2 linked regions of the Homo sapiens genome follow. The protein of the gene in region 1 interacts with the protein of each later gene in a pairwise test. Each region holds a gene or a part of one and is shown on either strand. Other genes may lie near its edges.

The links.
Region 2: the proteins of ZNF148 (region 1) and ZMYND12 interact in binary tests that used the Homo sapiens proteins (3 or more experiments, as listed by UniProt).

Annotation. Positions count from the first base shown.
Region 1 is NC_000003.12:125,309,194-125,313,022, reverse strand, and holds part of ZNF148 (zinc finger protein 148), read left to right. Parts: intron 1-1,525; exon of another isoform or gene 1,526-2,160; intron 2,161-3,829. UniProt on the Homo sapiens protein: Involved in transcriptional regulation. Represses the transcription of a number of genes including gastrin, stromelysin and enolase. Binds to the G-rich box in the enhancer region of these genes.
Region 2 is NC_000001.11:42,449,280-42,453,108, forward strand, and holds part of ZMYND12 (zinc finger MYND domain-containing protein 12), read right to left. Parts: intron 781-3,829; coding exon 639-780; intron 1-638. UniProt on the Homo sapiens protein: Required for sperm flagellum function and male fertility.

The sequences.
Region 1 (3,829 bases):
TTCTCCTTAAAGAGTAAAACATTTGAATCTTCAACGTAACTAGAAAAATATCACACATTCAAGGGTTTTTCCTACAAATTCTGTAATTCTTGCCTTCTTAAATTTTTCTAATATGCTCCTATTCTCTGTTCTCTTTGTATCCTCCGCTTGCTTGATCTGTTTATCTTTTTAAAGTATATCAGCCCTTTACTCTTTCCTATCTACCTCAGACGTCATTTAAGATGTTTCATAAGCACCCATATGTTTTTCCTTCTTCTACCTTTATTTTTACCCAATAATCAGTGAAACCACAACCATCATGTAAATTCTTGTCTCTTCTTTCTATGATATCAAACCTGGGTTCCTTTCAGTTCATCTAACATGTACTTTTTCTTTTGCTTTAGGACTTTAATATATCCTGCTTGAGATATTACCCTCAGTCATACTTCATACCTGTTTTATAACCTCTAGATAGTGCTCCATCATCATCAGCCTGTCACTTCTCTTGACTCTAGGTTGAGTCCCTGTGATAGGGACTTGTGATTTACTTGTACGATGCTTCTCTGATGGATTGTAGACTCCATAAGGACAGGAGTTTTGTCTTACTTTTCACTGTAGTCCAGGTGTTGGCACATGGTGTGAATGAGCGGATAACTACTTGTAGTTGTGCTCTGATACATACATTCACCAGCTTTACCTAGCCCATTGCAGTAACTTTTTCCTCTTTAGCCTGATGATGTAATGGATTACATTAGTTGATTTTTGAATATGGAAGCAACTTTCATACCTGGAATAAATCCTGCTTGTTTGTGGTATATAGTTCTTTTTAGATGTGGTTGGATTTGATTTGATCATATTTTGAGGATTTTTACATTTGTGTTCATGAGAAATATTAGTCTATAGTTTTCTTGATGTCTTTGTCTGTTTTTGGTATTAGGGTAATGCTGGTCTCATAGAATAAATTAGCAAGTATTCCCTCTGCTTATATCTTCTGGAAGAGATTGTAGAGAACTGATGTAATTTCTTCCTTAAATGTTTGGTAGAATTCACCAGTGAACTGCTTTGGGTCTGGTGCTTTCTGTTTTGGAAAGTTATTGTTGATTTGATTTCTCCTATAAATATAGGTCTCTTCAGATTATCTGATTCTTCTTGTGTGAGTTTTGACAGATTGTGTCTTCCAAGGAATTGGTCTATTTTGATAAAGTTGTCAAATTTGTGGGAACAAAGTTCATAGTATTGTTTTATTATCCTTTTAATGTCCAGGGGTTTATAGTGATGTCCTCTCTTTGATTTCTGATATTAGTAATTTGTGTTTTCTCTTTTTTTCTTTTTTTCTTGTCTTAAGACAGTAATTTAAAAAAATTACTGTCTTAACAATTCCCTTTTTTTTGGTGTATCATTTACTAAGTTAAATTATATAGGGTTTTTTGGGGTCTGTAATTGATGTACATTTGATTTTAAAAAGACACTGTCTTATATCAGGACAAAGCAGATTTACATACAACTATCAGCAGAAAAAATTTCTGTGTGATCTGAACAGAGGTACTCTTTTCTTTGATCATAAGAAAATGCAGTACTTTTAGAAGGTAAAGCTATTAAGATTACAGAAGTTTTACCAAAATGCTTTAAGCAAAAACTCTTTTAAGAAAAAGGTATGAGTTCTCATTTTCTATTCTTAGCATAAATTTTAATACTTTCTAATAGAACCTAACTCTTCTGAATGCCTTTCAGCATCATCCAAAGCTTGAACTTCTATTTCTGGATTAAAAATTCATTCACAAATGAGCTGTGCAATACGATCACTTTTTCTGACTTTAAACTTTTTTTTGCCAAAATTAAACAGTACAGCACCAACATTTCCTCAGTAATCTTCATCTATCAATAAAGTGTTTTGCAGCTAATCCAAACCATGGAGCTACTCTTCTGTAACATCCAGAAGGAAGAGCTATCTGAATGTCCATTTTCCCTAGAGCTTTCTCCATAGGTGGTATTGTATCATCATAGGCACCGTTGAGGTCATAGCCTGTGGCCTGTGTGGATCCCTGAGTCAGGGTTGTGGCCTGCTCAGAGAATGGGGCAAAACGGAGCTGCATGCTGCCTTCCTCTGCAAACCAGCCTGTTTGCTGGGGGTAACGGTGGGTGTCTCTTCAGAGCAGGGCATGGCAGAGTGAAAATGCGAGCAGAGGAGAGAGCAACAATTTTTAAGTGTCCATTTTAGTAGTGCAAACTATATTGACATTGTTGTACAACAGATCTCTAGAACTTTTTCATCTTGCAAAACTGAAACTGAAACTCATGTTCGAACAACTCTGCATTTCCCCCTGCCCAGTGGTAGAGGCTTGCTTATTTTATTGATATTTTCAAAGAAACAGCTTTTGATTTTCTTGATTTTTTTCCCTCTATTTCCTATTTTCAGTTTCATTTATTTCTGCTCTAATTTTTATAATTTTTTTCTGCTTGTTTCGGATTTAATTTGCTCTTCTTTTTCTACTTTCCTAAAGTGGAAGCGTATTCATTTTAGATTTTTTGTTTCTAATATATGCATTCATACTATAAATTTTCCTCTAAGCACTGCATTAGCTACATTGCATAGATTTTGATAGTTGTATTTTTATTTTCATTTAGTTCAATATATTTTAAAATTTCTGTTAAGATTTCTTCTTTGGACTGGGTGTGGTGCCTCACGCCTATAATCTCAGCACTTTGGGAGGCTAAAGTGGCGGATTACTTGAGCTCAGGAGTTTGAGACTAGCTTGGGCAACATGACAAAACCCCATCTCTACTAAAAATACAAAAATTAGCCGGGCATGGTGGCATGCACCTGTAATCCCAGCTATGTGGGAGGCTGAGGCATAAGAATCACTTGAACTCCAGAGGCAGAGGTTGCAGTGAGCCAAGATTGTGCCACTGCACTCCAGCCTGGGTGACAGAGTGAAACTCTGTCTTTAAAAAAAAAAAAAAAAAAAAAAATTCTTTGAACCATTATTGTTTAGAAGTGTGTTGTTTAATATCCAAGTATTTTGAGATATTTTCTAGCTACCATTCTGTTATTAGTTGTAGTTTAATTCTGTTGTGGTCTTAGAGCAGACGCCATATGATTGCTATTCTCTTAAGTTTGTTAGATTGTATTTTATGGCCCAGAATGTTGTCCACCTTGGTGAAATGTTACGTGCGAGCTTGAAAAGAATGTGCATTCTGTTTTTGTTGGATGAGGTAGTCTATAGATTGCAATAGACTGGCATTTTTATTGGACTGACAGTAGCCTGCGCCTTCTCCAGTGTATCTTTCAGATAGTTTCTACAGTGATCTTTCCAAACGAGATGTATACATGTCATTCCCTTACTGAAACTTCCCCAGTGGTTCCTCATTACTAAACAGCTAAAATGTACTTTTTTGCATGGGCGGAAATAGCCGTCATAATCCCGTCCCTTATCCAACTTTTTTTTTTAACTGTAGTTCAGCCCCTTTCGCCACCATTTTATGCTTTAAGCATATCAAATTAATTTAGTTGCCTAGGTCCACTATGGGTTTTTTCTGTTACTTTTGTTCATGTCGTATATGCCTATAATATTATTTATTTGGCAATTTACTGTTACTCATGTTTCACCTTAAAAGATGTCTCTTTCTTGTGATTTTTCATTATGGTAACTATAATAACTTTGCATTTCTTTGCTTGCAAGACTGTCTTGTCATTATATTTTAAGGTATTTTTTTCTGTATCCTGCCTTTAAATTTTGTGTTCTCAATACCTGGGTTATAGTAGGCAATCAGATTTTTTTTGAGTGAAAATATACATTCTGTTTTTAATTGAGGAAAAGTTTAAAGTGAAATGTTCAGATTCTGAGTTTGT
Region 2 (3,829 bases), on another chromosome or scaffold:
TACATCATTCTTAACCCTCCTATTATGTGGCCAGACTCTTGGCATCTGTGGATGTTATGGGCTGAACTGTGTCCCCTGCCAAAATTCATGTGTTGAAGCCCTATCCTGCAGTCTGTCACATGACTATAATTGGAGCTAGGGCCTGTAGAGTGGTGATTAAGTTAGAATGAGGCCATTAGGGTGGGCCCTAACCTAATCTGACTTGTGTCTTTATAAAAAGAGGAAATTGGACACACAAAGAGATACCAGGCATGCTTGCACACAAAGGACCATGTGAAGACACTGTAGGAAGGCAGCCATCTGAAAGCCAGGAAGAGAGGCCTCAGAAGAAACCAAACCTGCTGACCCCTTGATCTTGGACTTCCCAGCCTCCAGAGCTGTGAGGAAATAAATGTATGCTGTTTGAGCCACCCAGTTTGTGATATTTGATTGTGACAGTGCTAGCAGACTAATACAGTAAGTATTTAGTAAATGTGGAAAACAACAGACTGGATGGTGTTGAGGACTTAAAAAGATATAAAACAAAGTCTCTGCCCTCCGTGAGGTTACAATTTAGTGATCCCAACACAGTTCGAGCCTTGTCTTGGGCAGCTTCACCGCACCTACGACTTAACCTTGGAAAGTGCCGTAGGCCCTACCTGCCGCTGCTGCAGCTGCTGCAGGCCATGCTGCCGTTCTTCCTCTGAATTGTAGAAGGGCATGGAAGTGCGCAGTGGAATCAAGAGCTGACATATTTTCTCATGGATGCTGTCCCAGTCAGCCTTCTGATGTACCACCCCACTGACAACGGAAACATAGACTTTATGATCTTTATATTTGGCATGACTTAAGATTCCATTAACCCTCCTACTGGCCTATCCCTAGACACCAGAAAAGTAAGCCAAATACAAACCAGGCAGGGAGCTCAAAGCCATTTCTGAGACTCAAATCTCTTTCCTTTCATGTGGTTATTTGATGATGTATAAACTGTGTTGGGATTGGAGAGTATGTTGTTTCTGCAGGCACACATTCACATTCTGAAGTCACACAGGGATGCTGGCATGCAATTGCTCATAGTGTTCTCTTATAATCTCTTTTATTTCTGCAAGGTTGGTAGTAATGTCCTCACTTTCATTTCTGATTTTAGTAATCTGAATCTTCTTTTCTAGGCCAGTCAACCTAGCTAAAGGTTTGTCAATTTTGTTGGTCTTTTCAAGGAGCCAACTTTTGGTCTCATCAGTTCTCTCTGTAGTTTCTTTATTCTCTGTTTTATCTCTGCTATAATCTTTAATTTTCCTTTCTTCTGCTAGCTTGTGTCTATACCCAACACAGGGCTGTGCATAAAGGAGTTTATAAATATGTTTTAGTTTGCTCTTCTTTTTCTAGTTTCTTAAGATGAAATGCTAGGTTACTGATTTGAGATCTTCTTTTCAATGTAATGTATATTAGTATAAATTCATATGAGTACTAAATTCATACAGTAACCTCTGAGTACTGCTTTGCCAGCATCTAAGTTTTAGTATGTTGTTTTTGTTTTCATTTATCTCAAAGCATTTTCTAATTTCCTTTGTAATTTCTTCTGTGACTCATTGGTTAAGAGTGTGTTATTTCTACATATTTGTAAATTTACCAAATTTCCTTGTTATTGACTACTAATTTCATTCCATGTAGGTGGAGAACATACTCTGTATGAAATCAATCTCTATAAATTTATTGAGATTTATTTTATGGTCTAATATATGTTCTATCCTGAATAATGTTCTATACGCACTAGAGAAGAATAGGCATTCTCATGTTATTGAATGGTGTTCTACAGATACCTGTTAGGTCTAGTTGGTTTATAGCGTGATTCAAGTCTTATATTTCCTTGCTGATCTGTCTAATTGTTCTATGCATTACTGAAAGTGGGATATTTGATCTTCTATCTAGTTGTTCTATTCATTACTGAGAGTGGGATACTGGATCTTTCATCTAGTTGTTCTGTTCATCACTGAAGGTAGGATATTGAAGTCTTCAACCATTATTATTAAATTGTCTATTTTTCTCCCCAGTTCTGTCTGTTTTTGCTGCATGTATTTTGAGGCTCTGTTGTTAGATGCATAGTCATGGGTTTTTGCATTTCTATTGCTTATTACACATTTTCACTTAAATGTAAGTTAACTGTTTGATTCCATTTATACATATTTCAAAACAGGTAACAATAATCTAGAGGAGGGATCAGAAAAGCTTTTCTGTAAAGGGTCAGATAAATATTTTAGGCTTGAGAGCTATAGGATCTCTGTTGCAACTACTCAACTCTGCTGTTGTAGCACAAAAGCAGCCACAGACAATATATAGCCATGTTCAAGCACCTTCTTGGACAATATTGCCACCTTCTTGGACAATAGAAATGCAATTAAAGTATATTCTTTACAAGTTGTGACTGCTACCAAAGAAATGACAGAAACCATTTAAAATGTTTTTGGGGAGGTAGAGAATTATTATAAACAGATCAATAAAAGCACTTAGCCAGGATATAGCTGAGTTCCACAGGGAATTTATCAAGTGGGGCTTGTAAGCAATGGAAATGTTAACTTAGATGCCTGAACTTTTGTTCCACTGAGAGCCACTAACATATCTTGCCTTTCTAAATAAAGTGAGCTTTATTTATATATTTGCGGGCTCCCTGCTTATTGATCTGTCCCACCTGTAACACCTAACACAGGGTCAGGGATAAAGTAGGAATGGATAAATGCTTTCAATCAGGGCTCACAATTAAGTAGCTTGTGAGCCACATGTTTTGTTTGGCTATTATCATGTTTTTTTTTAAGCTGAATTTGAATATCTTTAGGTAGGGCATTCATTCTACAATTCACCACTGATCCTATAGCTTCCTATTATTGAATACCACTTCACTGTTTGTTTTCTTAGTGATCTGCAATATTTTTTGCAATAATTTTTCCTTTTGTTTGACATATGAAGCGCAAATTTAAATGCCGTCACTGGCCAGGAGAAGAAAACGAATGGTGAAGTGGTATTCAAGAACAGGAAGCAATAGTATTTGTAGTGAATTACAGAATGTACGCCCTGACTAAAGACATTTAAATTCATGCAAACCTATGGTACTGAAGTCTCTTTTACTTGTCACCAATGTTTTAGTATGTACTTCCATAAAATTACCTTTTCTTAAAAATGTTCTACTGTCCTGTAATCCCAGCACTTTGGGAGGCCGAGGAGGGCGGATCACAAGGTCAGGAATTCGAGACCAGCCTGACCAATATGGTGAAACACCGTCTCTACTAAAAATACAAAAAAATTAGCCAGGCGTGGTGGCGCATCCCTGTAATCCCAGCTACTTGGGAGGCTGAGGCAAGAGAATTGCTTGAACCCGGGAGACAGAGGTTGCAGTGAGCCAAGATGGTGCCACTGCGCTCCAGCCTGGGTGACAGAGCAAGACTCCGTCTCAAAAAAATAATAAAAAAATAAAAGTTCTACTGTGTCTCTAAAGTAAATAAAAATGTGCTATTCTCTGAGAATGGTCATAATCCACTATAGAGCAATATGCACAAGATTACACACAATATATAAAATAAATGTATTCAGAGAAAAGAAGGAAATTCACCAAAATTTCAGGTTATTAATCCCTGGGTTGTGGGACTATGGCTTATTTTTCTTCTTGATTTTTTATATTTTCAGGTTTTCTGCAGTGAGCATGAATTGCAATTATAATCAGGAAAAAAATTCTTTTGCAGAAAAAAACTTTCACAAATTCAGACTGACTTTCTTGTTCCTTAAACTTGGGATGATGAAAAGGAACATTTACTGTGTGCCAACATGGTTCCAGGAAGGGTACTAGATGCTTTACATTCGA